Homo sapiens: one gene and its partners. The protein of the gene in region 1 interacts with the protein of each later gene in a pairwise test. Each region holds a gene or a part of one and is shown in the gene's direction. Other genes may lie near its edges.

The links.
Region 2: the proteins of PPP1CB (region 1) and PPP1R27 interact in binary tests that used the Homo sapiens proteins (3 or more experiments, as listed by UniProt).
Region 3: the proteins of PPP1CB (region 1) and PPP1R2B interact in binary tests that used the Homo sapiens proteins (3 or more experiments, as listed by UniProt).
Region 4: the proteins of PPP1CB (region 1) and CHCHD3 interact in binary tests that used the Homo sapiens proteins (3 or more experiments, as listed by UniProt).

What each region holds. Positions count from the first base shown.
Region 1 is NC_000002.12:28,747,382-28,755,403, forward strand, and holds the start of PPP1CB (serine/threonine-protein phosphatase PP1-beta catalytic subunit), read left to right. Parts: upstream 1-4,448; 5' UTR 4,449-4,743; coding exon 4,744-4,795; intron 4,796-8,022. UniProt on the Homo sapiens protein: Protein phosphatase that associates with over 200 regulatory proteins to form highly specific holoenzymes which dephosphorylate hundreds of biological targets.
Region 2 is NC_000017.11:81,832,249-81,840,223, reverse strand, and holds PPP1R27 (protein phosphatase 1 regulatory subunit 27), read left to right. Parts: upstream 1-5,173; 5' UTR 5,174-5,270; coding exon 5,271-5,460; intron 5,461-5,570; coding exon 5,571-5,721; intron 5,722-6,371; coding exon 6,372-6,495; 3' UTR 6,496-6,732; downstream 6,733-7,975. UniProt on the Homo sapiens protein: Inhibits phosphatase activity of protein phosphatase 1 (PP1) complexes.
Region 3 is NC_000005.10:156,844,968-156,853,393, forward strand, and holds PPP1R2B (protein phosphatase inhibitor 2 family member B), read left to right. Parts: upstream 1-5,327; 5' UTR 5,328-5,595; coding exon 5,596-6,213; 3' UTR 6,214-7,561; downstream 7,562-8,426. UniProt on the Homo sapiens protein: Inhibitor of protein-phosphatase 1.
Region 4 is NC_000007.14:132,791,393-132,799,422, reverse strand, and holds part of CHCHD3 (MICOS complex subunit MIC19), read left to right. Parts: intron 1-2,845; coding exon 2,846-2,981; intron 2,982-8,030. UniProt on the Homo sapiens protein: Component of the MICOS complex, a large protein complex of the mitochondrial inner membrane that plays crucial roles in the maintenance of crista junctions, inner membrane architecture, and formation of contact sites to the outer membrane.

The sequences.
Region 1 (8,022 bases):
ACCCAATTGAAACAGAGACATAAAAACCAGTTAGGGCCAGGTGCGGTGGCTCATGCCTGTAATCCCAGCACTTTGGGAGGCCGAGGTGGGAGGATTGCTTGAGCCCAGGAGTTCGAGACCAGCCTGACACAGCGAGACCCTGTCTCTACTAAAAATAAAAAAAAATAGCCGGGCATGGTGGCACATGCCTATGGTCTCAGCTACTACGGAGGCTGAGGCAGAAGGATTGCTTGAGCCTGAGATGTCAAAGCTGCAGTTAGCTGTGAATGAGCCACTGTATTCCAGCCTGAGTGAGGCTCTGTCTCAAAAAAAGAAAAAAAATTAAGCCATTTAGCGGTAAACCTCCAACTGAAAAGGTGAATTATATGTGATTTGGATATACTACAGGAGAAACAGAGCAACAAGAAACAAAACATTTACAGTACACTGTTTCATTTGAAACAAATATTCACATATTGTATACTTTCCCTCATCAAACAGTTATTTCCTGGTATCCATTTCAGTGAGCAGGATGGGGGGAGGGGGGAGCAATAAAAGAGAAACATTCTTACCTGTGTAGATGACTTGCTTTTATTGTAACAAAGGCAACTGGCCCTGTAATCTAATTACAAGAAAAAAAGGCCACAGATAAACTCTTCAACAATTAAATAGTCATTACTTGTGGTAGCTGTTCACCTAGCTTTAATTGCCTTATAGTTAACAGTTCTAAATAGCCAGTTAACTCCTTCAATTACTAGACATTTATTTTTCAATCACTTTATCTTGAAAGATACGGATGTACTATGGAGTTAGCTTAAGACAAACTGAGAGAGAGAGAAGAGAGAGTTGGTTGGGGCCACCGGGGAGGTTACTGACCAAGGGCAGGGAAGGAGGCATTTATTTATATTTGCCTTATAATTCTGGGGGACTAAACTGGCTGAGGACATGCCTTATGGCTTAGCTATAATTTTGGCTATTCTCATATGTATAATGAAATGAAACCAAAACTAAATCTTAAGAACAAATCTTGGCCCTGCCTGGCTGTACCACCTAGGCCTGGCTCTGTATTGAGAGAGGTGGCCTCCTAATGATGCATATATGTCCTTGTCTGGTTTTCCAATTTTCTTGAATTGAGCTGACTATAAAAGCTTAATGCATGCGATATAAAGAATGGCTGACCTCCAGATACAACTAGTAAAATTTCAACTTACCACTACTTAAGACTTATTAAACACTTGATTGAGAAGAATCATATTTATGGAAGGACAGCCCAATGAATGTTGATTCATTCATTTAAAAGTCATCTTGGATTAAGCCAGAGCAGCAAAAAACTATATATCACCCCCTCCACATTTTGCTACCTAAACTTACTCACTTTCACACCAGATTGGCTACTGGCTAATACTGACAGGCATATAAGAAAAACATCCCTATGAAAGTCTTTGCTGCGTTTACTAACCGGAGTCACCAGGCTGCTGTTTACTGTGTTCCGAAATGCCTTCTCTAAGGACTATCCATAGAGACAGCTCTCTGGTCTCAATTCAGAGATGGTTGGGTTCCTCTGAGCACTGGTTTGCCTTTATCTGATAGGCACAGACATTATCTATTAGTAAAAATAAAATAATAATTTTATTAAGACCCCTAAATCATGATGCCCAAACCCCTTGCAATCAGGAAGTCTAGATAAATAACAGGAGTTTCCCTTCATAGAGATTTCTGGAATTACCCAAGGATATTAACATGCATGACCCAGATGCCTCCCTAAGCCTTATGGTGTGCTGGCAAATGTTTAACAACCATTATTCAGAAATAAGACAGGAAAACTGCCATCTATGACTGGTAAGATTATAGGTGATTTTTGTATTTTTTTTCTTCATTTTCCCAACTTCCTTCAGGAAACACATTTTACTCTGAAGGGGGTGAGGGTGGTGGCTAATACTTGGGATTATGGTGAGCTGCCCTAGAAACTATCGGGTTATTAAGTAACACTTAATATATGTACCAGTTTCACTTCAAAATCTGAAGCATTCTGAACTCTTAATTATTTTGGAGGGATATCCCACAGAAAAGTTGGCTGAGGCCCTAGTGATAAAGCTCTTTCTTACAGTGGCCCATTCCTGCCCAAGACTCCAGGCACTGGAAAACCTGGTGGGGGTGGAGAAGGTAACATCAGCAGGCAAGTACTCGGAACCACTCTCCTATCTCCTACCTCTTCTTCTCACGACCTCCAAAACTCTGCTGAGACCGGCCTCCCTCTGCCTCACTTGTGGTGATTTTCTCTCGGATGCTCACTTTCTCTCTGTGCAATCTTTCCTTTGGGTGTCCCTTGTCTTTAAACATGTCTGCGTATACCTGAACTCTAATTGTGGACAGGGTTCAAAGTTCTTTTTCATGGGATTCATGGGCCCCATGAAAATTAGAGGCTAAGTAGGCATCTAAGTAGGAGCATTTACGTGCTCCCAGGCATTCTGTTACACTTAAAGAGGCTCATGGAAGAGATTTGGGCAAGTGGTATAACTCTACAAGCTGCTATATTCAAGTCCTAGTTCCAGCTTAGCCAAAACACCTACTCCGATTGCAACTGATCTTTTTCTTGGTTGCTAGAAAACTGAGAGTCATATGTGTGGCCTACCTCCAGCAAACCAATAGGACCTTACACCATGCATTTTGCATACAAAACTGCTGGCTTAATCTTATCTTTCACACTCACGGTTTTCTTTTGTCCTATTTTTCTCTGTACTTATTTTTAATTTACCCTGATGTACACATTTATGTAAACTACGTTAAATCCTTTCCTCTGGAATAAAGTAGGGTGTAAATAAATTTAACAAAACAACAAAGAGTGATGATGAGCCAGGTCTTCACTCCTGAAGGCCTCAAAACGAACTGGCAGTGATCTGTGAAAACTACAGAGAACTGCCCGTTCATCTCCACAGATTACTGAAGTCTGTGAAAACTACTCCAGCCAGGACCACCATTATAGCCTGCTGCCTGTTGTGTTCACAATCGATGCACAAACTCAACCCTGAAATGGAGAGAAAAATAGGGGAAAAAAGACATTAGGAAATCCTAGCTCTATGTCATCTGGACATTAGAAAGCACTTGGTTGGACAAAGCTTTTTCTCCCCCACAGCACATGCCTGTTTCAGCATCTCAGCCCACATTCACGGAGAGGGAGAATATAGCAATTGTTAAGAATGCAGACTCTAGCACTGCATGCTCTGCTGTTTATTTGTGTTATTTGGGCTAGGTTTTTTAACCGTCTGTGCCTCGGTGAATCCCATCTACAAAGTAGAGATAATAATAGTACCTACCTCACAGGGCAGTTGTAAGGATTAAATGAGGTAACCCGGGTGTAACATTTAAAACAGTGGCAGAGTACATACAGGGATCTGAACAAATGTTAGCTACTATTAGTGATATGTGAGTGGGGGAAGCACACTGCCTTGGACTTGAGGCAATATCAAGTCTGAGTTTCTGGAAAAACACTTGTGGAATAAGTAAGGGCTGGCCACCTCCTAAAACCGGACAAAAGATCTGGCTTGCCTAGATCCTTAGCGTGACTGCTTCTCCTCCTGCCTTTCTAGAGGCAGTATTACGTGATGGAAATACTTGGTGGGTGCTGTGGGCACAAAGATAAGTTAATGTGTTTTTATTCCCTAGGAGCTGAGTCGAGAGTAGGAGAAAAATGCATAAATAATTACCAGGTAGGATGATTAAGCAATATACTGGAGGCAGCAACAGAAACACACCGTGGAAAAAAAATACCCACGGCGTGGATGAAGATATGAGATGTGTGAAAGCGCTAGACACAGGCAGCCACCTGCACCCATGTAAAATTGGATTATTGCTGACTCCTACAAGGCCCACTTTAACGCTTCTTTCAACCAGAATCCCTGCAGAACTAATTTTGTAGAACCGCCGGGGATAAAGACCTTTATTTGCAATGTCGAACTCCAGCAGAGTAACCCCTTTTGCTTTCCACACGCGCAAACCCGGGTCCCAAACGCTGCAGTTCGCGTTTCCCGGCTAACGGAAGAAACACGAGGAACTGTTTGCAGATCTAGGGGATGAAGCCAAAAAACGGAAAGCGAGGCCGAAAGGGCGCAACCACCACGTCTGGAGGAGGCCAGTGAAGTAGAGAAAGGGGAAGGTCAGCCCTGCCCCAGCGCGCTCTGCGTAACCGGGACTTCCTCCGCGCGGCAAAGCCGGGGAACCTCCCTGGCGCCTGCGCCACCGTGGCGAGACTCGGCGCCGTGGACGTGGAGAGAGGGCGACGCACCTGCGCGAAGACGGCAGCGGGAGAAGCCGCTCCAGTGCGGTTGCGCGGCGGCCCAGGCGTCGAGGGGAGCCTCGGCGGGGAGCGCACCGCGCGCCTGCGCGGAGAGCTGCGTGACGCGGCGGCGCGCAAGGGACGTGCGGAGTGAGTGGCGCTGCGGGTGGGGCCGTCGGCGGCGCTGGTGAGCTTTGCGGAGCTGGGCGGTGCCGAGGAGGAGGAGGTGGCGGCCTGGGTCTGACGCGGCCCTGTTCGAGGGGGCCTCTCTTGTTTATTTATTTATTTTCCGTGGGTGCCTCCGAGTGTGCGCGCGCTCTCGCTACCCGGCGGGGAGGGGGTGGGGGGAGGGCCCGGGAAAAGGGGGAGTTGGAGCCGGGGTCGAAACGCCGCGTGACTTGTAGGTGAGAGAACGCCGAGCCGTCGCCGCAGCCTCCGCCGCCGAGAAGCCCTTGTTCCCGCTGCTGGGAAGGAGAGTCTGTGCCGACAAGATGGCGGACGGGGAGCTGAACGTGGACAGCCTCATCACCCGGCTGCTGGAGGGTGAGTGCGCGCCTGGCCGCGGGACAGAGGGAGGTCGGGCACCGCCGCCGACCCCTGCGTCCCCGTCTGCCGCCGGAACGCGAGGGGACCCCTTTCCCGCCCCGAGACGAGTCTCTGGGAGCGCGGCGCGGCGGACGAACCGAGGAGGGGGCGAGGAGGCTCTGGGCGCGGGGGAGCGGCCTCTGGGAGCGCGGTCAGGGGAGATCGGGGGAGAGGGGGCCGTTCCCGCGGACCCTCGGGGGCCAGGCCCGCCGGCCGAAGGCTGTGCGGAGCGGGTCTGCGGGAGACAGCCTTTCGGAAAGGCCGCCGGGCTCCGCGCGCCGTGGTGCTCGCCTCCGGTGACCCGAGGATGGGGAGAGGATGCCTGCCACTGGGCTTTGTGCGTCCGTGGAATCACTGTTCTTCTCTGTTCTCTTTGTGCATTGCCCTTGGCTGCCTCCGATTGTCGTTCCGGGAGTGAATTTTACGTATATATATATAAACCTGTCCTTAACAGGACTGCTTCGTCTGCTCTGCATTTTTACACAATGCTATATAGAATGGATTCTTCTTAAAGAGAGGATAAAATTAGCGGGAATTAATCTACCGTTTGTTACTTGGCCTAAAAAAATTGTAAGACAAGATATTTGATCAGGTTGAAGATGCACCTAAGAAATGTGATGTATGTAGATGGGTTTGCTGAAGGGATTGGCTTTTGCATTTGATTTGAGCAGAGCTTAATTTCTGCACAAACTTAGTGAAAATCTATTTTTAAAGCCTGTCTTGTATTCGAAAGGTATTTGTAGGTCTACGCAGCATTTGAACTTTCCGGGCTCAAGTGTTCTTATTGAATAGTTTTATGTTGGTGGGAAGGCAAGGGGGGAAAACGAAGAGGTGGACTAGCCGGGAGTTAAATGTATTGATTCATTGCAGGATATTATTCAAAGTTAAATGCAGTCTTCTGCCAAACAGTCCCTCTACCCTAAAGTTTTCGTCATCAATAATTGTTTTGTGAGTGTGTAGAAAAGCCTTTAATCCTTTTTAAACAATTTAGAGGCCTCTTTGTTAGCCGCCGTCCAGCGATTGCATATGTACTGTTTGCTTTCAAATTACCTTAAGATAATTGCTAGAGTGAAGCAGTATGTACTTATATTTGGAAAATCATCAAAGAATATTGTAATGGGGGAGGGGTAATTCCTTTTTCTCAAAGTATGTGTCGGTATCTCAAACCCAAGTTCTGTGAGTACCTGTTCTGTAACTAAATACTGTGTATTTGCTCCAGATGTGAAAGCCATCCAGCAGTCTTAAGACTGAATAGGAAGCAAAAGTTTTACCAGGAACTCTTATTTACCTTTTCCTTTACTATCAAGTTATTCCTGGGAGGCCCCCTGGTGCCTGCAGTCAGTGTTCACTACCTAAGACTTTGTTTCAGATGTGAACATCTTGCTGGGTCTTTGAGAAATTTGCTTTGAAAATAATTGTATTTTGTAACTGTTTTATGAGGGAAATACAGTTAATTTAAAAATGTGTATGTCTTGTTTACATTTGGGAAGTAGAGGCCTACTCCTTTTTATTTTTTTTTTATTTTTATTTTTTGAGACGGAGTCTCACTCTGTCGCCCAGGCTGGAGTGCAATGGCACGGTCTCAGCTCACTGCAACCTCCGCCTCCCGGGTTCGAGCGATTCTTCCGCCTCAGCCTCCTGAGTAGCTGGGATTACAGGCACCCCGCCATCATGCCCGGCTAATTTTTTTTGTATTTTTGTAGAGACGGAGGTTTCACCATCTTGGCCTGGCTGGTCTTGAACTCCTGACCTCGTGATCCACCCGCTTCAGCCTCCCAAAGGGCTGGGATTACAGGCGTGAGCCATCGCGCCCGGCATATTTTTATATATTTTAAACTTTGCTTGTAAATTTAAATATTTTAAAAATATGTTTGTATCTCAATTTATTTATATTTTATTTCATTTTCCATATATTTTGTAGGCATAAAACAGATTTATGTTTTAAAATGTTTGTATCCTTTTAAATTAGACGCACCTTTATATGATTACAGGTACTTAAACTTCACGAGTGGGTTGTGCAAGGTTACTAGAAAAGACACTGGGGGAAAAATAAGTGATTCCATTTGTTTTTGTGAATTCAAATTAAATATTTGGTTTGTACAATCTGTTTTCCTTTTTTGGGGGGGCGGGGGGGGGGCGGGTAAGAATTGTAGTCCAGATACGTTTCTCTCTTAATTTAGCAAGCGTTAACAAGTTGACCTCCTCCTTGCCAGGCACCAGCAATCCTAAGATAAGACACAGTCTCTTCACTCAAGGAGCTCCCAGTCTAAACAAGTGTCTTTCAGGCTTTTTCAGCCTCCTCTCTGTCCTATGTTCAGCACACATTCTATCAGTACTTCTTCATCCTACAGAAGCATATTTAGTTTGACAGTGCCCCCAAGGGATTCTTAAATATTCTAGGTTTTTCAGCTCCTTCCCAGATCCAGACCTGTTGAAAGACTTGTCCAGAGCAGACTTGAATTTTCTAGTAAATAATTATTTTTAATCTTCAAAGAAAATTTTGTCCACCTGGATTTTCAGTGATATTAGATGCTAGTTAGTGATATTTTGTAAAGCTGCCTAGCAAGAATAACTATGGTTAGTGTTTTTAGTGTCAAATGAACGTGTAAGTAAAAATTTGGCAAGAATTTCTCTGCATTAGGGGAAAACATTCAGCAGGACCTGATCTCATTTTAAAATGCTGATTGTAGCCCCACAACATATTCCTGATTGTTTTTTCTTTTTTACTGTATTAAATCGCAGATCAGCTATACACACTTCTGGTGACTACATTTTATGAGTTGCTTTTTGTTTTTCTTTTTTAGGTGGGCGTATTATTGATAAGTTTTTTTTGTTTTTTGTTTTTTTGAGACGGAGTTTTGCGCTTGTCACCCAGGCTGGAGTGCGGTGGGGTGATGTTGGCTCACTGCAACCTCTGCCCCTGCAGGTCCAAGCGATTATTCTGCCTCAGCTTCCCAAGTAGCTGGGACTACAGCATGCCACCACGCCCCGGCTAATTTTGTATTTTTAGTAGTTTCACCATGTTGGCCTGGCTGGTCTCGAACTTTCCATCCTCAAGTGATCCACCCGCCTCGGCCTCCCAAAGTGCTGGGATTACAGGCATGTGCCACCGCGCCTGACCTTGATATGATATTTTCAAAGAGTCCTTTAGGTCATTTTAATACAAACATGCCATTTAATGTAAA
Region 2 (7,975 bases), on another chromosome or scaffold:
CTCAAACTCCTGGGCTCAAGCAATCTTTTGCACCTCAGCATTCTAAGTAGCTGGGACCATAGGCACCCAGTACCATGCCTGGCTAATTTTTAAATTTTTTGAAGGGAAGGGGGTCTCCCTATGTTGCCCAGGCTGGTCTTCAACTCCTGGCTTCAAGTGATCCTTCTACCTTGGCCTCCCAAAGTGCTGGGATTACAGGCGTGAGCTTCTGAGCCCAGCCAGGCCTCACTGGACTTCTAAAAGTTGGACGGTAGGCCGGGCGCGGTGGCTCACGCCTGTAATCCCAGCACTCTGGGAGGCCGACGCGGGCGGATCACGGGGTCAGGAGATAGAGACCATCCTGGCTAACACAGTGAAACCCCGTCTCTACTAAAAATACAAAAAATTAGCTGGACGTGGTGGCGGGCGCCTGTAGTCCCAGCTACCCCGGAGGCTGAGGCGGGAGAATGGCGTGAACCCGGGAGGCGAAGCTTGCCGTGAGCCCAGATCGCACCACTGCAGTCCAGCCTGGGCGACGGAGCGAGACTCCGTCTCAAAAAAAAATAAAAAAAGTGTGATGGTAAACCTTGTGCATCAGATGTTCTAGTTCGTCCTCCAGAAGGCAGAAACTTAGAGTCATGCAAACTAGGTCAATTTGCAAGTTCATATGGACCAAGAAGAATCAGGGACAAAACTCCATGAAGACAGGTTTGGCTCTGACGTCACGCTGCATGAACAGCACGCTTCGCCCACGGTGGAGCAGGCACGACTGCTGACGGCCGGCTTCTGATGGAACGTTTCAAGGGTGAGGAGCTCCAGGGAGTGTCTATCATGGCGTAGAACACACGGTTCCCACATCCTTATTAGAATAGAAGGCACATAAATACCTTTCAAGGAAATCTGTTGTGACTGGCGAGGCTTCAGGCACCAGTCCCTCGGGTGATCCAGATAGAAACCCCAAAGCCAAAAGCTCTGCACGCTCCCAGCTCACCTCCAGCAGGAGGGACACAGGGGCTTGCTTGGGGTCGCCAAACAGGCTCACCGGGTGGTCTTGCCCCCACCGCGTCTCTAGCCTGAGGCCCGGTCACTCCTGGAAAGGGCGTTCCTTCTCGTCACACTGTTGGTGGCAGCTTCATCCAGCGTGCTTTCATCTGATCCTCTGAGGGGGGAGGGCAGACAGAACTTTCCACAACATGAGAAAAGGCAATCTTCACATCAGAGGAGAGCCTGTCTCCAGTGTACAACGTTTCGTCTCCAGGCTTCACGTAAACAAGCCAGAAAAAACGGCCTGGCTCCTCCCAAGTGACCTGGAATTCCAACTGTCCATACCTTTCCCTGAGTCCCTAGAAATGCAGCCACGCTGGGAGCCGACCCCCCTCAGGGTGTCTGCAGGCCCGGGCCTGGCTAGAGGCTCCAGGGCCACTCCAGTGTGTGACTGGAGAGGTGGTGTACCCGAGGCGAGGGGCCCAGGGGGCAGGGGAGGGGACAGGGGGTGCACCTGGGTACCAACGCAGGTCCAGGAAATTTCGCCAGGCAGGGACCCTCCGTCAGCGCCGCTTCTCCAGCAGCATTTTTCCTTTTACTCTTTTTATTTTATTTTTTAAATTTTTTATTATTATTATTTTTAAGATGGAGTCTTGCTCTGTCGCCCAGGCTGGAGTGCAGTCGCGCGATCTTGGCTCACTGCAACCTCCGCCTCCCGGGTTCAAGAGATTCTACTGCCTCAGCCTCCTGAGTAGCTGGGATTACAGGCGCACGCCGCCACATCCGGCTAATTTTTGTATTTTTAGCAGAGACGGGGGGTTTCTCCATGTTGTCCAGACTGATCTCGAACTCCTGGCCTCACGTGATCCACCCTCCTCGGCCTCCCAAAGTGCTGGGATTACAGGTGTGAGCCACTGCACCCGGCCAGTTTTAAATTTTTTTAAAGCAAAGGAGTCTCACTATGTTGCCCAGGCTGCTTAAACCCCTCGCTTCAACTGACCCTCCAGCCTTGGCTTCCCAAAGTGCTGGGATTACAGGCATGAGCCACTGTGCCCAGCCCTCCCATAGCATTTGGCCAAGGCTTTGCACCTAGAGGTGTCTAATATGTTTGCTGATTTGATTTCGTTGGATGCAGATCAGCCTAATGATGCGAGGCTGTTGGTGGCCCAGCTCTCCTCTGCCCCTGCAAAGAGCTGCTGGCCAGTCTTGGTTCTGTCCTCATTCAGGCCTTTAGTGACCACCTGCAGGGTTTTACCAGCATTATGGGTTGACTCATGTGTCTCCTTAATTAACGTTGAAGTCCTAGCCCTCAAGACCTCAGAATGTGACCGTTGTTTGGAAACAGGATGCTTGCAGATGTCACTGGTTAAGATGAGGCAATACCCAACTATAACTGGTGTCCTTATACAAGGGGGTGATGTGAACAGTGACAAAGGCTGGGAGAACACCATGGAGATGAAGGCCGAGATCGTGGCGATGCTGCTAGGGCCAAGGACACCAGGATTGCTGGCGGCACCAGAAGCTGGGGAGAGGCTTGCGACAGACGCTCCTCAGAGCCTCAGGAGGAACCTGCCCTGCTGAAACCCGGATCCCAGATTTCAGCCTCCAGAGCTCTGGGACGGACCGTCTTTTTTTTTTTTTTTTTTTTGAGACGGAGTCTTGCTCCATCCCCAGGCTGTAGTGCAGTGGTGTGATGTCAGTTCACTGCAACCTCCACCTCCTGGGTTCAAGCAATTCTCCTGCCTCAGCCTCCCGAGTAGCTGGGACTAGAGGCGCCTGCCACCACACCCAGCTAATTTTTGTATTTTTTTTTCCCGAGACAGAGTCTCGCTCTGTCGCCCAGGCTGGAGTGCAGTGGCGCGATCTTGGCTCACTGCAAGCTCTGCCTCCCAGGTTCACGCCATTCTCCTGCCTCAGCCTCCCAAGTAGCTGGGACTATAGGCGCCTGCCACCATGCCCAGAAAATTTTTTGTATTTTTTAGTAGAGATGGGGTTTCACCGTGTTAGCCAGATGGTCTCGATCTCCTGACCTCGTGATCCACCTGCCTTGGCCTCCCAAAGTGTTGGGATTACAGGCGTAAGCCAACGCGCTTGGCCTTTTTTTTTGAGATGGAGTCTTGCTCTGTCACCCAGGCTGGAGTGCAGTGGCACGATCTCGGCTCACTGCAAGCTCCACCTCCCGGGTTCACGCCATTCTCCTGCTTCAGCCTCCTGAGTAGCTGGGACTACAGGCGCCCGCCACCACGCCCGGCTAATTTTTTTTTTTTTTTTTTGTATTTTTAGTAGAGACGGGGTTTCACTGTGTTAGCCAGGATGGTCTCAATCTCCTGACCTCGTGATCCACCCGCCTCGGCTTCTCAAAGTGCTGGGATTACAGGCATGAGCCACCGTGCCCGGCCTAATTTTTGTATTTTTTAGTAGAGAAGGGGTTTCACCTTGTTGGTCAGGCTGGTCTCGAACACCTGACCTCAGGTGATCCACCTGCCTCGGCCTCCCAAAGTGCTGGGATTACAGGGTTGAGCCACCACGCCTGGCCAACCATCTGTTTTTTAAGCCACTCAGTCTGTGGTCTGTGAAGACAGCCCCGGCAGACTCATCCATCCAGCTTCAAGTGCTGCAGTGCTCCTAGCACAATCGATCGCTGTCCCTGACAACAAAGACCTCCCTGGTCAACTCTGTGTCTGTGTCCCATCCCATCCACTTGCTCATGTCCTGTAGTCCAAGCCCTACTTTGGACCTCCACTGGGGCTGTTGCAAAAGTAAAGGCAGCCAGCAATGAAGAGCCTGTTGGAACACGAGTTTTAAAAATTCCCTTGGCTGGGCGCAGTGGCTCACGTCTGTAATCCCAGCACTTTGGGAGGCCGAGGCGGGCGGATCACAAGGCCAGGAGTTTGAGACCAGCCTGGCCAATATGGTGAAACCCCGTCTCTACTAAAAATACAAAAATTAGCCAGACGTGGTGGTGCATGCCCCTGTAGTCCCAGCTACTCGAGAAGGTGAGGCAAAATAATTACTTGAACCCGGGACGCAGAGGTTGCAGTGAACCGAGGTTGCGCCAATGTAGTCCAGCTTGGGCGACAGAGTGAGACTCTGACTCAAACAAACAAACAAAAAAATTCCCTTGGCTGTGCTTCTAGAGGTAAGATCACAGGGGCCGGGGCAGAGAGAGCACACCACCCAGGGTGTGATGGTCCCTGAACGTGGAGAGCAAACTGGACACCACCTTAAGTGTGAGTATGTGTGTCAAACCTGGAATGCAGAGACACTATGCAGGGTGAACCCATGAGTGTGTAGGGAATACCCTGTCCCCTGCAGGTGTGTGAGGCAGGGGAGCCAGGCACGTGGAGGAAAAGTCGCAGGACTGACTGAGCAGGAGCCTGAGGCACTGAGATCCCAGCCAAGGATGCCTGCGGGGTTTCTGAGCAGGAAGCAGCACCATCAGAGTCATTTTTTTTTTTTTTTTTTTTTTTTTTGAGACAGAGTCTTGCTCTGTCGCCCAGGCTGGAGTGCAGTGGCACGATCTCGGCTCACTGCAACCTCCGCCTCCCGGGTTCACGCCATTCTCCTGCCCCAGCCTCCCAAGTAGCTGGGACTATAGGCGCCCGCCATCACGCCCGGCTAATTTTTTGTATATTTAGTAGAGACGGGGTTTCACCGTGTTAGCCAGGATGGTCTCGATCTCCTGACCTCATGATCCGCCTGCCTAGGCCATCAGAGTAGTTTTGGGAAAACCACTGAGAGTGAGGCAAGCCACGCTGGAAGGTGAAAACTGACAGGTAGGGAGATGGAGGGGCTAAGGCCTGTTTCACCACAGCACGGTGGACCTGTGCTTCTGCAGATGTGGAGGGGGTGGCCGCCCCTCACTTTCCAGGAGGTAGAGAGCAAAAGCCCTTCCAATGACCTTGGTACCTACTGTGCCCTTGATCTCGCGTTCCTAGCTATCTCATGGGTTCTGCACCGGTGCCTCCTCCTGCCCTCGGTAAGGCACCTTCTAGGTCCAGCTGTGGGGCAGGGAGCGACAGGCAGGAATGATCTGACCCCTTTGGCCGGGCACGGTGACAGATGGGCTGAAAGATGAGTCACTAAACATGATCTGGGGTGCGGGGCGGGGGTGCAGCTCAGTTTCAGCCCCTCGCGCCGGGGAGGATGACCGTGCAGCTTTATATAGCCCCTGAGCCCTATATAAGCAAGTCAGAGGCCGGGGCTCGTCCGACAGGAGCCCTCAAGCTGATCTGGTCGGGACCGGATACATTATTAACCCCAGTGCAGTAGGGTCCCCAGGGGCAACCTGCCCCACAGCGCCCAAGATGCCTAGCAGAACTGCCCGCTATGCCCGCTACAGCCCACGGCAGCGGCGGCGGCGGATGCTGGCTGATCGCAGCGTGCGTTTCCCTAATGATGTCCTGTTCTTGGACCACATCCGGCAGGGTGACCTGGAGCAGGTGGGGCGCTTCATCCGGACTCGGAAAGTCTCCCTGGCCACCATCCACCCCTCAGGTGAGCAAAGCCTGGAAGAGCTGGCCAGGGCCTGTGGGGTGGTGGGAGAGGCCAGCAAGGAGGACCTGACCTGGGGCTCAGTCTTGACCCCTCCCGTCCTCCCTGCCCAGGCCTGGCCGCCTTGCATGAAGCCGTGCTCTCTGGAAACCTGGAATGCGTGAAGCTGCTGGTCAAATACGGGGCTGACATTCACCAGCGAGATGAGGCGGGCTGGACACCCCTGCACATTGCCTGCAGCGATGGGTACCCTGACATAGCCAGGTGAGGGGGCCCTGGGTCTACACAGGCTTGAACCCGACCCCTCCGGGCCTCAGTGGGTCCCCAGGATGGGAGCCCCAAAATGTAGCCCGGGTGGTGTCGGCAAGAACCCTAGAGGCTGGGGGCGGTGGCTCACGCCTGCGCCTGTAATCCCAGCACTTTGGGAGGCCGAGGTGGGCGGATCACCTGAGGTCAGGAGTTCGTGACAAGAACCCTCTCACTACTAAAAATACAAAATTAGCCACGCGTGGTGGCGCGCGCCTGTAATCCCAGCTACTCAAGGCTGAGGCAGGAGAATCACTTGAACCCGGGAAGTGGAGGTTGCCGTGAGTCGAGATCATGCCATTGCACTCCAGCCTGGGTGATAAGAGCGAAATTCTGTCTCAAAAAACAAAAAAAACAAAAAAAGAACCCTGCAAACCCTAGAGGCTTCTGGAATCCTGTTTCTGCCTTTGTCCTCAATAGAACCAACTTGAAAAGCTGGCCACAGCTTCCAAAGGGTCAGGTTTCTTCCTCCTCACCCTACCCGGACCTTAGGACCCCAAGGTGGGGGACACACAGGTGACCCCAGGACTCTGGCCCTCTGACCCGGGTTGGGGCGAGCACTCTCCTGGCTCCTCCCCGCTTCAGCCAGAGCGACCTTTACACCCCAGGTACCTTATCTCCCTGGGAGCGGACAGGGATGCAACCAACGACGATGGCGACCTGCCCTCCGACCTCATCGACCCGGACTACAAGGAGCTGGTGGAGCTCTTCAAAGGGACCACGATGGACTGAGCCAGCTTTGCCCGCCCGCCCCCGCGCCCAGGGCCGCCTCCCTGGAGAAGCCGCGCGTCGCCCATGGGCCAGCACGTGCCCCACCCGTGGGCCAGGGGCGGCCGGACCCGTCCCTCCACGACCCCGCCACCCCTCCTAGGCCTGGCTTTGTCCCCAGGTGAATTTTTTACTGTGACACTTTTTACTTTTTCAATAAACGTGACTCCCAGGTGAGGGGGCCTGGGTCTACACACGTGGTCCCTGTGGTGGTGTCCTGATTACTGGGCTCTGGCCGCTCCCAGTGGCCGGCGGCGCTCACCGTTCGGGCCAGGGAGGTCCGGAGCTTCCGCCACGAGCCCCAACCCCGCACGGGAATCCCGGCCGCCCCCGCCCTCCGCCAGCCGGGCGGTCACGTGAGAGCGCGCTGCGCCTGCGCCTGTGCAGCCCGCGGTGGCGTCACTTCCGGCGGGGCCTCCCAGCTGGAAGAGGCGGTGGCGGCGGGTCGGGGCGAGGTGAGGCGGGTGCGGCGCCGGGCGGCGGGGACGGGGCGGGGCGGGGCGGGCGCGGCTGGGCCCCGCCCTGGTGTCGCCGCGCGGCCGCGGGTGCCCTGCAGGGCCGGGCGGGGCCGGGCGCGGGGGAGTGGCCGGGCAGCCGGGGTCCGAGGGAGGGGCCCGCGTTCCCCGCCCGGCACCTGCAGGAGGGCGCGGCCCGCGGGGCGCCTGGGAGCGCGCGTGGGGAGGGCGCGGCTCGGACTGAGCGCCTTTCCCGCCCAGGCAGGGGCAGGTGCCGGGGACCCAGCGCCGCCGGACGCTCGCAGCGGGCCAGCCTTCTGCCGCCGTCGGGGCTTTGGGGCTGACAGAGCCCCGCTTTCCCGGTCTCCTGGAGGGACCGTGCCTGAGGATGCCTCCGATTCTCGGAGCGCCGCGGGCCCGGCCGTCCGCATTCTTTTTCTGTCCATTTTTCGGCCTTGCCCTCTTTCCCGTCTCCCCGGGCGGTGATGCTGGGCCTAACGGGGAGAACGGGGCCTCCGCCTGCCTTCTAGGCACTCACTGGGCGGTGGTTGTGACCGCGGGGGCGGGAGCCATACGGGGCACGGGCTGTGCTTCTCTCCCTCCTGCCCCTGGGTAGCCGTCGCAGGAAGGTGGTCTTTCAGCTGGATCCCCAAGGATGAGTAGGATAGTTTTGGGCAGAGAAGACAGCTTGACCAAAGGCCCTGAGGTGTAAACAGGGACCAGTGAGTGGACTTTGGGTGGGATGTGGCGAGAACGTGTAGAGAGGGTGGGAAGTGGGACGTGAAGGAAGAGCCAACAGGGCTGGATTTGGGGCGAGTCAGGGGAGGTTGTGGTTTGAGTGGGATCAGGATGGGGAGGAGGGCGCACACGCTCAGGCTGTTGCTGCCACCACCCAGGGGAGAGGGTGAGGAGGTGGTGCAGCGCTTAGAGGCTTTCCCTGGGCGGTCTTCAAGGGACCACGAGGTGCCAGTGTGGCAGCTGTGACAGCC
Region 3 (8,426 bases), on another chromosome or scaffold:
GCAAGATCAAGATAAGCATACACACTCAAAACGAGGCCTGTCCTTTCCCCAGCAAACGTTAAGAAGGAACAAGTACAGGAGGATCAATACCCCCCTTAGGTCTCCTACACCCATTTTGTATAAGGGTTCAGAGGAAGACTTTTCAGGCTTCCCTTCAAAAACAATTCATATGTTGAAGCCCTAACCCCAAAGTGTTAGTATTTGGAGATGGGTCTTAGAGAGATAATTAGGTTTAGATGAAGTCATAAGGGTAGGCCTTTTTGATGGAATTAGTACTCTTACAAAAAGAGACTCTAGAAAGCTTGCCTTCTCTATGCCATGCAAAGACACAGCGAGAAGGCAGGCAAAGGGCACCCACCATAAACTGACGATTCTGGCACCTTGATCTTGGACTTGTATCCTCCAAAACTGTGAGCAAATAAATTGCCATTGTTTAATCTACCCAATCAATGGCATTTTGTTGTGGAAGCCCAAGCTGACTAAGACTCTCAGCCACTCACTCTTATGTGTACACCTAGATCTGGTCATTACCTCTGGTAGGTGAGAAACCGAACTCTATAAAGGTTTGGTCTTTTTAAAAATCAGTATGCTCTATTGCCTCTCCCTCGATGTTCATGAAGACGACACAGGCCTAGATGAATTTGACCCAAATTCTAATTTAGAGCCCACTGTTTATTAGCTGTATGACATTAAGCAAACACCTGAAGCTTTAATTGTCTCATTGGAAAAGGGAAGATAATGTCCCCTACCTTGCAGGGTTATTTAAGCATTTAATTAGATTATGTATGATAAAAGCATAGCGTTGTTATTTTGTTTTTTTGAGATAGGGTCTCACTCTGTCACCCAGGCTGGAGTGCAGTGGCATGATCGCTGCTCACTGCAACCTCCACCTCCTGGGTTCAAGTGATTCTCATACCTCAGCCTCCTGATTAGCTGGGATTACAGGCATGAGCTGCCACACCTAGATAATTTTTGTATTTTTGGTAGAGACGGGGGTCTCACCACGTTGTCAAGGCTGGTCTTGAATTCCTGGCCTCAAGTGATCTGCCCGCCTCCCAAAGTACTGGAATTACAGGTGTGAGCCACTGTCCCTGGCTAGCATTGTTTTTATTATATTTTTCAAATATATGACAGCTATGAAATTATACCTGGCCAGGCACAGTGGCTCATGCTTGTAATCCCAAGACTTTGAGTGGCTAAGGCAGGAGGATAACTTGAGGCCAGGAGTTTGAGAGCAGCCCTGGCAACACAGTGAGACCCCATCTCTACAGAAAATACAAAAATTAGCCAAGTATGGTGGTGCATGCCTATAGTCCCAGATACTCAGGAGGCAGATATAGAGGTGGGAGGATTGCTTGAGCACAGGATTCTGAAGTTACAGTGAGCTATGAATGGCCATTGCACTGCAGCTTGGGTGACAGAGCAAAACCGGAAGGATGGAAGGAAGGAAGGCAGGAAGGAAAGAAGGAAAGAAGGAAGGAAGGAAGGAAGGAAGGAAGAAAGGAAATTATACCTTTTTTTGCTACCTTTTCACTCAAGAGACAGTATTGTTAGGTTGTTGTGAAAATTAGGTAAGGGAGTACATGCCAGGTGTTGGAAAACTACAGCCCACAGTCCGAGTAGCCTGCTGCCTGTTTTTTTGAACAAAGTTTTACTGGAGCACAATTACATCATTTGTTTAAATATTGTTTATGGCTGCTTTCCTGTTACAATTAGAGTTAAGTAGTTACAACAGAGAATGTATGTCATGCAAATTCTAAAATATTGACTATCTGGCTCTTTACAGAAAAATATTGTACACCCCTGATATAAGCAAGCATTTAAAACAGCCTTAGTATAAGCTCTCAATAAGCAATAATGTTTCTTCCTTGTAAGCTTACCTCAATTTGCTCAACAAATTATGGGCAACAGTTGCACACAGGAGAGCAAGTAGAAATAAATCACTTGCATTGTGAAGTCCAACAGTAAAACTCTAGATTACATAGTCCTACGTGTAAGTTCAGATTTCCCTGGGTGCCATAGCAGAGTTTTTATATTGGGCATAGGGCAGGGTTGAACTTCTATTGTATTTTCACATCACTGCTGATCCTGTGACCAGTGTATCTCACACCAAGCATAGCATATGTTCATCAGACTACAATCTATACAAGACACTTAACTAAACCCAAGATTCTCACAGCAAAACAGGCAGGACAAGCCTAAGAGTGAAACTAAATCACTCTCACGAAATATCACTGATGATATTCAAAAACTCAAATATGAAGATGAGACAGCTCCTAGGGCCACAAAGAGGTGGAAAAAAAAAAAAAAAACAAGAAGATGGTCTGAGAATTGGACTTTTATATCTTCAACATCCCACACTCCCATCTGTCCACAGCAAAATGCATAGAAAATATCCCCCTGACTGATGGTTTCTACAGTAAAAAAAGTGACATTGAGGTGAACCACCAGCTTCCCCTACCACCTTAAGTTTCCTGACAGGAGACCTTTCTCTGCTTCAACGCATGGGAAGCATCATGAATGCCTGAAAGGAAAAATATACCTGAGGACAGCCATAGATAAAGGAGGAGAGTGGGACTATTACCCCCAGCCCTAGAAACTCCATCTGAAATTCAGCCAAAAGAGATGCCAAATCAGGGTAGCTATTCAGCAGCAGTACATTGTAGGAGGAATAGTCCACAGGTCCCCTGGGCATGAACCACTAGCCAGCCTTCCCACACAGCTGGGATATCCCTTTTGGCACCTCCCCATTTGGGATGGGCAGTGCTCTGATCATTAACTGGAGCCAAGGAAAACCTAGGCTCAAAGCACAATCTAGTGTTAAAGAGAAAGCAGCAACCAGTGGGGGAAATAAAGAAATTCAGCAGGTAAATTCAAAGAACCTCTAAGCAAACATATCCAATAATAATCAAAACAAGCCAGAGAAAGAAGAGAGAAATAATCACTTAATGCAAAAATACAGATGTATATCCACAATAAACAACAGCAAATAGGGAACTATTACCTCCCTAAATGAACAAAGCAAGGAACCTGTGACTGAGCCTAATAGGATGGTGATACGGAATCTCTGACCAAGAATTCAAAATGACAATTTAAAGGAAACTCAGTATCTCCAAGATAACACATAAAAGCAACTTAGAAATTTATCAGAGAAATTTAACAAAGAGATTGAAATTTAAAGAAAAATTAGACAGAAATCTCATAACTGAAAAATACATTTGCTGAGCTGAACAATTTATTAGAAGTTCTCAACAGCAGAAAGGATCAAGCAGAGCAAAGAATCGGTGAGCTCAAGGACAGGTTATTTGAAAATACAGAGTTAGGGCCAGGCACAGTGGCTCATGCCCGTAATCCCTGCACTTTGGGAGGCTGAAGCTGGTGGATCACTTGAGTCCAGGAGCTTGAGACCAACCTGGGCAACATGGCAAAACTCTATCTTTACAAACACACACATACACACACACACACACACACACACACACACACACACACACACACACACACACATTATACATGTGTGGCTGGTGCCTGTAGTCCCAGCCACTCAGGAGGCTGAGCTGGGAGGATCACTTGAGCCTGGGAGGAAGAGGTAGCAATAAGTCCAGATCACTCCACTGTACTCCAGCCTGGGTAACAGAGTGAGAACCTGTCTCAAAAATAAATAAATAAATAAATAAATAAATAAATAAATAAAAGAAAAGGAAAAGAAAAACAAAATACAGCATCACCTTTGGGAGGCTGAGGTGGGTGGATTGCCTGAGGTCAGGAGTTCGAGGCCAGCCTGGGCAACATGGCAAAACCCAATCTCTACTAAAAATACAAAAAATTAGCCAGGTGTGGTGATGCATGCCTATAGTCCCAGTTACTCAGGAGGCTAAGCCACAGGAATCTCTTGAACCCAGGAGGCGGAGGTTGTGGTGAGCCAAGATTGCACCAGTACACTCCACCCTGGGTTACAGAGTGAGACTCTGTCTCCACCAAAAACAAAACAAAACACAACAACAACAATAACAAAAATATGGAGTCAAGAGAAAAAGGAAAAAAGAATGAAAGGAACAAAAATATAGAGAAAAATTGCCTAAAAAGACAAAAATCAAGAATTATGGATGTTCAAGTGGGAACTGAGCAAAAACAAGGGGTAGAAAACTTATTCAAAGAAATAATAAGAGAAAACTCTCCAAAACATGAGAAAGAAAAATACCTAGGTACAGGAAGGTCAGAGAACACCAAACAGATTCAACCCAAATAAGAGTACTTTAAAGGATATAATAATCAAATTCTCAAGTCAAGGACAAAGAGATACTCCTAAAAGCAACAAGAGAAAAGCAGCAAATGACATATAAAGAAGCTCCAATTCATCTGGCAACAAACTTCTCAACAGAAACCACACAGGCCAGAAGGGAGTAGGATGACATTTTGAAAGTGCTGAAAGAAAGTAACTGCCATCAAAGACTACTGTATCCAGCAAAGCTATCATTCAAACAGGAGGGATAAAGTCTTTCTCAGACGAACAAAAGCAGAGAGAATTCAACACCAAACCCATCCTATAAAAAATGCTAAACGGAATTCTTTTTTTTTTTTCTTTTGAGACAGAGACTCAGTCTGTCACCCAGGTTGGAGTGCAATGGCATGATCTCAGCTCACTGCAACCTCCACCTTCCAGGTTCAAGTAATTCTCCTGCCTCAGCCTCCCAAGTAGCTGAGATTACAGACACGCACCACCATGCCTAGCTAATTTTTGTATTTTAATAGAGACGAGGTTTCACCATGTTGGCCAGGCTGGTCTCAAACTCTTGACCTCAAGTGATCTGACCACCTCAGCCTCCCAAAGTGCTGGGATTACAGGTATGAGCCACCGTGCCACATCGGGAATTCTTCGATAAGAAAAACCACCATCACCACCGCCACCACCATGCAAAAAGAAAACATTTGAGGTATAAAACCCACTGTAAGTACACAGAAAAATCCAGAATGCCCTAATACTTGTAAAGGTGGTGTGAAACCCACTTATAACTCTAGTATAAAGCCTAAAAGACAAATCAAAAACTTTAATAGCTACAGTAATCGTCAAGAGTTAGGCAATATAAAAATATATTAATTGAGACAATATAAAGTCAAAATGTGGTGGGGGGATAAAGTTTGTTTCTATTGTGTTTTCGTGCTCTGTAAGTTTTCATCTCTTTACAACTTGTTACATCTATAAAGATGTTTTTTTTTGTAAGCCTCATGGTGTCCACAGTACAAAAGAACTATGAAAAAGGGCGTCGGATTTGCTCCACCCCCCCCACCCCCACCACACCCACCACCCCCCACCCACCACTCCCCGCGGAGCTCTAGGCCGGCATCTCTCCGCGAGCCGCGGGTCAAGTGCCGGCGGCTAATGGTGCGCGAGGAGCCGCCACCCATTCGGCGTTGGCTCTGGCGTCGGGGTCGTTGTGACAACCGCTCCAGTAGCCGTTTCCGAGGCAGCAGGTGCGGCCGCTTTAGCCCTGAGCGGGCTCTGCGGCTGCCTGCGAGTCTCTGCTGTGCCGACCCTTCTCTTCGCGGACCCCACGCCAAGCAGCGACCCTGAGGCGACAGCCGGAGCGCCCGGCAATGGCGGCCTCGACGGCCTCCCACCGGCCCATCAAGGGGATCTTGAAGAACAAGACCTCTACGACTTCCTCTATGGTGGCGTCGGCCGAACAGCCCCGCAGGAGTGTCGACGAGGAGCTGAGCAAAAAATCCCAGAAGTGGGATGAAATTAACATCTTGGCGACCTATCATCCAGCAGACAAAGGCTATGGTTTAATGAAAATAGATGAACCAAGCCCTCCTTACCATAGTATGATGGGTGATGATGAAGATGCGTGTAGGGACACCGAGACCACTGAAGCCATGGCGCCAGACATCCTAGCCAAGAAATTAGCTGCTGCTGAAGGCTTGGAGCCAAAGTACCGGATTCAGGAACAAGAAAGCAGTGGAGAGGAGGATAGTGACCTCTCACCTGAAGAACGAGAAAAAAAGCGACAATTTGAAATGAGAAGGAAGCTTCACTACAATGAAGGACTCAATATCAAACTAGCCAGACAATTAATTTCAAAAGACCTACATGATGATGATGAAGATGAAGAAATGTTAGAGACTGCAGATGGAGAAAGCATGAATACGGAAGAATCAAATCAAGGATCTACTCCAAGTGACCAACAGCAAAACAAATTACGAAGTTCATAGAAGAGATTTGTTCAACACTGCAATTGTTTGTTAGATATAAACCCTGTGACTATAATACATTGCTTCTTGTTCTCCACAATTCATGACTTAAGTACCAAAATGCATACCAGTTATTATATATTGCCAAGAATTAAATGATAAACTTAGAGACTAATTAGACTGAAAATGCCTAATTGATATATATATTCTTATGCCTAGTACTTTACCACAAATACAGTGTAATATCATCAGTCCAAAACTGCATTACTTTCATAAGAACACTGGTTAATTTGTATAAGATATTATAGAGCTTTTTATGCTTTAGAAGTTAAGCAATATCTTTGGGGGGGAACTAATTTATTTTCATCACTCGAAATGTGGTAGCTCTTACAAAGTTTGTTGATTTGTTTTTTTAAAAATCAAAAGCCAGTTGAACAACAGGATATATAGACTTATAAATATTCAAGCTGAATCGTATTTTAACACTTCTCTTCAACTTGATTTGTCTGTTTAATTGAAAAGAATTGTAAGAGTTACTGTTGCATTTTCTGACCTACTACCTTTAAAATTCCTGTTGAGTTTCTTTGTGTTTACAAGGAAAGGACTGAACTTTTTCTCATCAAAACTAGCTTTTTTCCCCACAAATAAATTATCAGGTTAAACTTTCACCAATGTCTGCTCTGTTTTTTGGCAGGGGGTTTGTTTGTTTTTGTTTTTTAATGTTTTTGGTACACTGGGCAGACTTCAGAGCAGTTTTTTAAAAAATAAATATTCTAATGTAGCTATCTCGCCATTCCCTTTAAATACCTGTCTTAACCTCCTGCTTTTATTTCCTACTCCTTTCCACACATACACACACAATCTTTTACCTTTTAAAGGATCATTAAGATTGTCACGACATTAGGAACTCTTTCTGTCACTCTTCTGTCATTTGCTGCTGTGTGGAAATTCTTATTTTGACCATCAATGCCTATGAATTCTTCTAATACATGAAGAAAATAGATTGAGTAGCAGCAGTACTATAGGCAGGAAATACAGTTTAACTGCTGAATTTCTATGCCTCTCGATTTACAGATTGCTAATTAAATTGCTATTATTAGTTTGGCTTAATTAGACTTAAGAAAACAACCGAGGGTTTTTTTTTGTTTTTTGAGGGTTTTCTTTGCATGAGAATTGTATGTAACCAGTGATATGATTATTCCTGAATGTACAGACAGAAGTAAGCCTGGACATTTTTTAATTTAAAAACTTTAAATAGTCCCTGCTTTAAGGGAATATGATAATGTATACTATGACAAATGTACTTTATTCCTCTAACGCAGTAAGAATTATGTGGAATATTTTCCTTAAACGAAGTGCAGGAAAGCCCTGTGTGTCTTGGTTTGGTTATGGTTTCATTTCTAGCCATACAATTGATGAATCGTATACAATTTTCGTTAGTACCAAAATAATCTGTTATATGAACAGACTTCTAAAATAATGTCTGTATAATATATATTTATATATATAAAATAAGGCTTTTATTGAACAGCTTATCTTCCACTTGCAGGTTTATAGAAATATCAGTATTTCAAAATAAATAAAAAGTGGGAGAATTCTTTGCTGTTAGAAGAATGTGGTTATTATTTTGATTTTTTTAAATGAGATATATAATCAAAGTACTGCTGAACTATAAGTGCAGTATTCTAAACATTTCATCTAGTAATACCACTGATTTAGAAACAAAACTGTTTATCTCTGGTTTCTGAATTTAGAATTTTGGGATTACCTGTTTAAATCTGTCTTGGGGGATGTAGAGATTAAGTCTGTACATATGTGTGCACATATATTCATGCAACCTCTGATTTTGGTTTTCTTGTTTCTGAGTTCTTAGAAAGTGTCCACATACTCTTTTTTGTAGAAGTAGCTGTTGTAGAGTGAAGAAAAGGATAAGACTTTAAACAGTTGATTCTTTTTGTGTTTTCTACAAACTATTTTTTGAAATTTAAATCACAAGCAAACTCATTTTCTGGTTTTTAGAAAGTAGATGATTTCAGAGGAGTAAGGCATGCCAAGCAGCATGCTCAGTGGGGTTTTAGGCTGTCACATGCAGCTGAGAAAAGGTATGTTCAAGTCATAAGTCGCTAATTGATAGGGTATGAACTAGTCAAAATATGAACCATTATGATTCAAGTTAGATTTTCCTCTGGAGAGACAGATCTGAATGTTCAGTTCTAGCCAAGGTAGATTTTACT
Region 4 (8,030 bases), on another chromosome or scaffold:
AATAAAAGTCAATTGCTGACTCTATGAATATATGGAGGGTTTACCATAATGCATATTGGAAATGTTTTGAAACCTTTATCCTGAATGGAAGGTGCCATGGCTTGTGTTTTATGGCCTTCTAATGTTAGACAGCAATCTCATTTAGCATTTTCCCAAAGTGAAAACAGTGCATTAGGGCAGTATAACAAGCTTTACAGATCAATACAGAGGCAAACCTTTACCCTTACAGATTAATCCAAGAAAATGTCCCAGAGTCTACTCCTGGAGCTGGAGGACAATTATGCTGATTTCCATTCCTCTTCCCCTCTTTCTACCATCAAATCATTAATACAGATTGAAGTGTGTACAAAAAGAATTTCAGAGGATGACTGCACACACACACACACACACACACACACACACACACACACACACAGAACAGATCACCAAACAGGAAATCAAGAGCCCTGGAAGTGAGTAGTATTGATTTGTGGTGATAAAAGTATATTTTGACACATTTCAAATCATAAATAACGCATGGACTTTAACTTGCATGACTAATAGCTCAACCCAGGATACATGCTTATCTACAACTTAAACTACCTCTTTCTAAGGAGTCCATAACATGAGGTGAATTATCCCATCGTGAGTAGACTTTTTAAAGGAAAAAATAAACTGTCTTCTTTATGACATGCAGTGTGTGGATGCTCATTTTTACAGTCTTTTCCCGTATGTTAATGAGGAAGGGCTGCATATCTGGTCAGGGTTGTTCTAGCCTTCCCTCCTCACCTCCTTCCCCCTGCTTTTAAATCTGAGACACATTGGAGACACGATCAGTTGTCAACACTAGGATAGAATGTAACCTTGCTTTCCTATGAGCTATTAGTCATTAGTCATGTATTTGCTAGGTTCAGCTGATCTGATGCTTAATCATATTTTATTCGATATTTATCTAGATGCAGGTCTTGCTATAATTAGTCACTTAGTGGTATCTGTGCCTATACTCTTTGAAGCACGGCTGATTCCTTTTAAATCCTGATGTTCGTGGTAAAGGATTAGGGAAATCTGTGTCCAGAAAAATTCACAGACATCTGAAGTTTGAAATCTTAAAGCATGGAAACTCCTGGGATTCTATTTAATTCTGTTCTTAGGTATTTGACAAAGCAGTAAGGTAATGAATGAAAAAGTAAAAGTGATGTTATAGAAAAATTGTTGAAACATTTTTTTTTCTCTGTATGTCTGTGTTCTTTAGAGGATAGTAGGAAGTCAGGGAACCACCAACATGCTTTGCATTTCTATTCTAGTAAAATATATATTAGCTTAGTGTACTGGATAAAAATAATGAGACAAATCATCACCCAGGCGTTTCCTTATTGATGAGAAATATTCCCCCTGTGTTCTCTAGGGGTTTTGTTTGAACCCATTAAATTTAAAATAATGTGATTTCAAGATTACTATGGAAATAACAAATTTAAATTTCAAAAATAGAAGTGATAAGACTGGAAGCTTCTTGTATTAAGACTAATTTGAAAAAACACGAATTTCAAGATTAAAAGTAGTAATATTGTGCTTTTTTTCTCTGTATGTATTTAATCCTTGCAGTCCAAACTTCCCTGCCGTATTAATCAGAATATTTTACCTTCATTCGTATAACTCATTTGGTTCATTATCATTTTTCAAGCATATATTATAAGGTTTTTGGAAACATTTACATTTGGTCTCACATATTCACAGAAGCAATCTGACTAAAATCTGAGATTTGTAAGTATAAGTAGCAAAATTTTAACCCAGGGGACTTTAAAATGTTTTCTTTGCACCGATTTGTATTCATTCAGTAAATGTATTACATGACTTCTGTAGGGTTCCGATGTCTAATAGCTGAGGTAACAAAGAAAATAAGTCACAGTCCTTGGAATTTACATTCTAGTAAATGTAGGTTGCTAAATTGTATTAGACTATGGTGTAGTCAGTGTCACATGCATGGCAAGAAAAGTGAATACGGGACCAATGGGGTCACCATAAAGGGAATGATAGACTGTACCAGGGTTGGGGGGTGGAGAGCTAATGAAAGCTGACACTTGAGTGAAGTATCAAAGGATGAGTAGGTTTTTTCCAGATATAGAGGCATAGGTGGGAGTTTGGGCGTAGAGCATTTCCAGAAGCAAGAGCAGCATGAGCTTAGACTTGAAGAGAAGTGTAAGAACGAAACCCTGAATTGGGTTTGTCCAGGCTTCAGCTGTGTGCAGGGTTGGGGGGTGAAGGCCACAGAGTAGGCAGGAACCTGGTCAAGAAGGACCAGCCAGCTGGCCTTGTATTTTGTGTAGAAAGTGCTGGGAAAAGAGACCATCTTCGATTTCCTATGGGAAAGAACCCTCTGGAAGGTGTGTGCAGGCAGGAGTAGAGGGTGTCAAAGCTGAGAGACCAGCTGGGAGGTTGTTTCTTGAATTCAGGATGTGGCTCACTTGGAAGCAATGTAACGACAGTGAGTGTGGAGCAGGAGGACCAGGCCGTAGGGATCTCCAACTTTGTGACCAAGTGGATATGGGAATGGAAGAGAGAACTTAGGGCTTCCAAGTTTCTGGCATGTTGATATGGTTTCGGTTTGGAAGGGATGGTTATATTGTCCAGACTAACTCACAGTAGTGTCAATTAGTGGAACTAATTTCTTAGAATTTATTTACCCTTTGTCATTTTTATCATGGGAAAAATTTAGCTATCTTTGAAGTTTAAGGAAAATTCTTTCTCTTAAACCTTTTTCTACATTTGCAACATCTGTGTCTTACTGTGCGTTTTATGTGTTCTTTAACCTTGATTTTTATTCTGAATGAAGACCATTGGTCTCAGCGGTCCCTGTGTTTGTTTTCAGGCGATATGAGTCTCATCCAGTCTGTGCTGATCTGCAGGCCAAAATTCTTCAGTGTTACCGTGAGAACACCCACCAGACCCTCAAATGCTCCGCTCTGGCCACCCAGTATATGCACTGTGTCAATCATGCCAAACAGGTAGGTGTGCCAGCCAGGCCACTGGGGGCACTGGGCAAATTGAAAACTGGATGACCTGGGGCAGTGGTAAGGACTAAATGGGCCACTGTGTGTGAAAAAGCTTTCTAAGCCCTAGTCATCATCATCAAGAATTACTGTAATGAGTTGATTAGGGCATAACTTGTGTCCGATCATTGTCAAAGAGCCCATATCTTCCTTATGTACAACTCATTTACTTGCAGAAAAAAGGATTCTACTACAATTATACTTTTTTCCACTTGCCCTGAACTTTTGTCTTCTAATAATAATGTTCCCAAGGTCATTCCTCATACTTTTAGGCCAATATTTAGAGCTAGCGAAGAGGATACAGATTAAGAGCTGGCACCTTTGGGCCCATAAGCCGTAGGTAGGCAGAGGGCCAGGTTAAAAAAAAAACAAAACACCACCGTTCAGTCACTGTCCAACGCTTCCACCAGTTGATAGAGTTCACTTAGTTGGACAGGGAAAGGGAAACCAGAGATAGCATTTTAAAAAGAATTTCCACTGCTTTTATAGACCATAGCCATATTCTTCTCTTGACCCTTCATATCAGAACAATATGATGTTCACAGGACGTGCATTTTCTCTAATTTATGTACTTTAGAAAGCTAATGATAAACCCTGAAGCAAATTATCAATTCTGGCAGGTCACATAATTGCCTATCATTTAACCAATTTAACAGTTGGATATGGTTGTTCTGAGAGGCAGAAATTGTTGGAAACGTTGATTCCTTCTGCTGACAAACTCCATAGATTTGACCTTCTAACCCAACTAAATCTAGTGTTTAAGTTACACAGCATGCCTTTCTGCAGTCTAATTTGATGTAGTTATAATAATATCACTTGGTGTAAAATTTTTATACTCTACAAATATCCGACGGGAGGGTTAGTATTATCTGGATAGCTGGAAAATAAAGTAACATTAGTGGAAAGAATATAATCAAGATTTATTAAAAGCCTATGTTGTCCTCAAAAGCCTAGTGGCTGGCAGCTTTTTTCTGTTTCTTGCTTGTAGCTGCACTTGTATAACTCTTAGTAGTATGCCAGGGATCCTTTTCATTAAAGGTCTTTGGTACAGGTAATGTTGCTAATGTTAAGTTAGTACGTTTTATTTGTCGAAAACAGCTTCTGATATGCTGTTAATAAACCCCAGCCTTCAATATGAATATGAACTGAAGGACTTGAGACTCGTAGGTTGATTCATGGATTTTTCTAACTTGATAATAGTGCCTTATTGAGCTGGTGGTCAGTGGAAAAGAGTGGTTGTGACAAAGTGTATGTTTCAATGCTGGTCTCTAACATACGTGCCTGTTTGTACCATGTGATTTGTAACATTACCACAGTGGCAGCTGCAGGGGCATTGGGAGTGCTGACCCCATCCTGCCTGTCTGGGTTGTGTTGAATTATCTACATATAGTCTTGTGACATCAATGGTATATATTTATAGGATAAAGCAAAGTTAACTTGTGACAAAAGCAAATACGCCACATGGCGCGATAGTGAGTTTGAATCTGGCAGACCTGGGTTTGTACCCTGTCCTTTTACCAGCTCTGTGACCTTGGGGCTTGAGTTTTCTCATCTGTAAATTGGGGTAATGTTGTGAGGATTACCTTTATATAAAGTATTCAGTAAATCTTATTTTTCCCCTTCTTTCCTCAGTTGCATTATTGTGCTGAAATTTACTAAACAGGTCAGCCAAAAGCATCAAATTATTATTAATGATTTCAAAAGAGACCCTCTTTTTTCCCCCTCACTCTCCAATCTTTTATGTTCAGCTAGTATGTTTGGAGTATCTATTGTTTTCGTGGCTCTTATATTCAGTTATTAGGAGGTGTATAATACAAGTTAATAATAAAAAGATAGAAGCCCTCAAACCTTTTTTCCTGAGATGGGCAACATTGAAATGGACGAGAACCAAGAACCTGCACCACCTTACATTTCGGCAGTAGTTAGGATTGCAAGGTCATTTCACATCCATTCTTTTACTTGTTTTTTTATGACAACCTGAGATGTAAATAGAGATGGTTTTATTTTCACCATTTTCCAGTTGAGAGCATTGAAACTCAGGGAAGTCACAATAGTGAATTTAACAGCTAGACCAAGATGTACCTTGCCATAAAAACAAAAAATTTCAAAATACATAAGTGGCATTTGGTTTTTGAGTGGGTAAGTTTGTGAAGGGGCATCCATCCATCATCCACTAATGCAGAAATAAGGCAGTAAGGGAAAGTGAGAGCGAAAGCGATAAAGGGAGGACACAGAATGTGGAAGATCTAATGAGCGGGGGACAGAGTCTGAAGGTCACACATGGGGAGTGGGTTGATGAAGCCCGTGATGAAAGGGGCAACTTGGCACTGGCCCATTTTAAGATCACGCCACAGTGGCCAGAAGGAGCTTCTATCAGTGTTTCATGAGCAGTTACTTTCCTTCCAATACCAGGTTGTCCTTTTGCTCCTTGTGAATTTAGGCTAACCTCATGACCCCAGCTGTGCCCCTGTTAAGAGACTCCGGCAAGATACGTAGTCCCGACTGCCTATTTTAGCAGTTCCTCATGGGCCAACTTCTTACATTTTCTTCTTATGTTTCCTGTTAAATCCAGAGAACAAGCTGGACATGCTAAACATGGAAAATACTATACATGACAACAAGCCATTAGGCAGTGTTGTCCATATCCGACACAGTGCAAGGGTTTCCCCCATGGAATAATTCCAATGGCTAAGTCCACTCCACTTTTAAATAACTCATAAGATTGGCCTTTCACGGGTTCCCTGGGGCATTGTTCTAGAGACTAATAGGTTTTACTGTTAGGAAAATTTCCGGATATTCCTTAGCCTTACTCTTCCTCTCTGCTTATTTATCCACTTATTCATATCAGTGTTTCTTCAGCTGTTCTTCAACAATTTCTCATGGGTTGACATGAGACATTTAGGCTATTATTTCTTGTGTATTAACTTATGTGCTCTTCATGAGGGTAAAGAGATATTAAATAGCTCTAATTATTATTTCTAAGACTTAAAAGCTACCAGCTGGCTGGCTGTATGAGATACAGCATTTACAAAGGAAGGAGCACATCGATTGATACATAGTCCTGTGTCTTTTGTTTCTCATATCTGCTTAGCCTCATAACTTTCTCAAGCTCAGCAAGATTGGATTACCTCTTCTTACCTTTGATACCTGGTTCCCATTCTATCTTGCTACACCTACCTAAGGTAGGAGAGGTGCTGCTTGTACCAAATAGGTCATGTCTCTTCCTCTGAGCGTGCCTATGAACAGGCATGCTTATGCACACCACCTACCTTACAGGAGAAATGGAAAGGAGCGGGAATGAGAAGCCAATAGTATTTGCTCATGGGTAGACCAAAATGTGCCCAAGTTCTGTTTTTTAAAAAAGGGGAAGGGTGTCGAAAGGGTTTGCTGTCAGATCTGCATTACGTCTGGGACCATTCCCTGGGACATACCACCTCTCTACTATTTACTTGTAGAATTGGGCTGCATTGGGAGTTGCTAGTCTAAGCATTTCAGCTTTTTCCCAGCCCTGCTGCTATTGACAGAAAAATGCAGAAGCTGGCTGGACCCTTCTGGCACATTTTGTGTTCACTGGGAGGGTGGGGTTTATAGGAAATACTGCTGCTGCAATCCTAATCTAATTATAGTGACTTGAGCTTCAGTTGCTTTGATAAACTGAAGGTTTGAACCAGGTGATCCATGAGGGCCATCTAGCTCTGTTATTCTAGGACTGATTCTGCTTTGAAGTATATAGAGCAAAAGATGGTGTGCATAAGCATGCCTGTTCATAGGCGCACTCAGATGAAGAGACATGGCCTATTTGGTACAAGCAGCACCTCTCCTTTTGAGACCTCCAGTATTTGTGCCTTCGCCTCTTAAATTTTGCTGTCCACCTTAAACGTTCACTCAAGAAGAACACTTGCATTTCTGATTGGTCTGCTGCTGCCTGGCCTCCCACTGCTACGTACCCTTTCTTTGAGGTTCACACTCCTGACAGCCCTGGGGAAGCCAAGGTGGCAGAAAGAACTGGGAGGGAATAGAAACAGTTTCACAGTTTCTCCAAAGTCAGTGAAGTGAAAAACAGCTGTCTCTGCACTGGCTGGCAGAATGTACCCTGCCGGCTAATAAAGGCCATTAGAAAATGCAGGCTCCCTCCAGCCAGCCGTAAGCCTCCCCTGGATCGTGATGCCTTTCATCCTGTGAAGTACCATGGGAAGTGTGACTCTGAAAACAGAGCAGGAAGCCAGGAACCTGGAGCCTGACAACCAAGGGCAAACTGGGACCAGAGGCAAGGACCAACCCCAGGAGATGCCCAAGGGACAGAGGTCAGTGTGGGACCTGCAGTTAGATGATGAGTCTGTCAGGGGTCCCCCAAACCATAGCAGAAGTTTCAGTCAGTAAGCAGGCAGTGGGACAGTAGCCACGCAAACAGTTAGTTCAGCTCACAATAAGGACGTCTTGTAAATGAGACAGCCCCACCTCAGACCTACATGCTTCCTGCTGATCTCTTTGGAGAGATCAGAAAGGAACCTGGCCACAGTGAGGAACTTGGGGTCAGGACCCAGTAAATGAGGCTAGATCCTAATGTGACAGCTCTCCAACTTAAGGCTAGTGCACCCCGTTGTCTCGTTTCTAAAATATCATTGACATCTCCAGTATTTGGTTGGCTTCCTAAGTCAAAGCCTCAAGATCAGTGCATATGGAGGAATTTGCCCTGGCACAATTTCTGTCCGCCTTCTGAAGGACAATTTCATCTCCCCGGTGAACTGTATTTATATTAGACCAGGATTCTGCTCCTAAGTCTGTGACATATTTTGAGTATGAAGGGGTCCTGAAAACATAGTAGTAGCTTTTGCTTAAAAATCAAGGTTCTTGAAAGAAAAACCTATTGCCAGAGCAAGCTGTATGTTATCATTGTTTTCAGATGAACTCTACATTAGATGCAAATGATTTAATAGACTTATAGGCTGTTGGAGCTAAAAGGACCCTAGAGATCATATAACCCAACCTCATTTTTTTCATGTG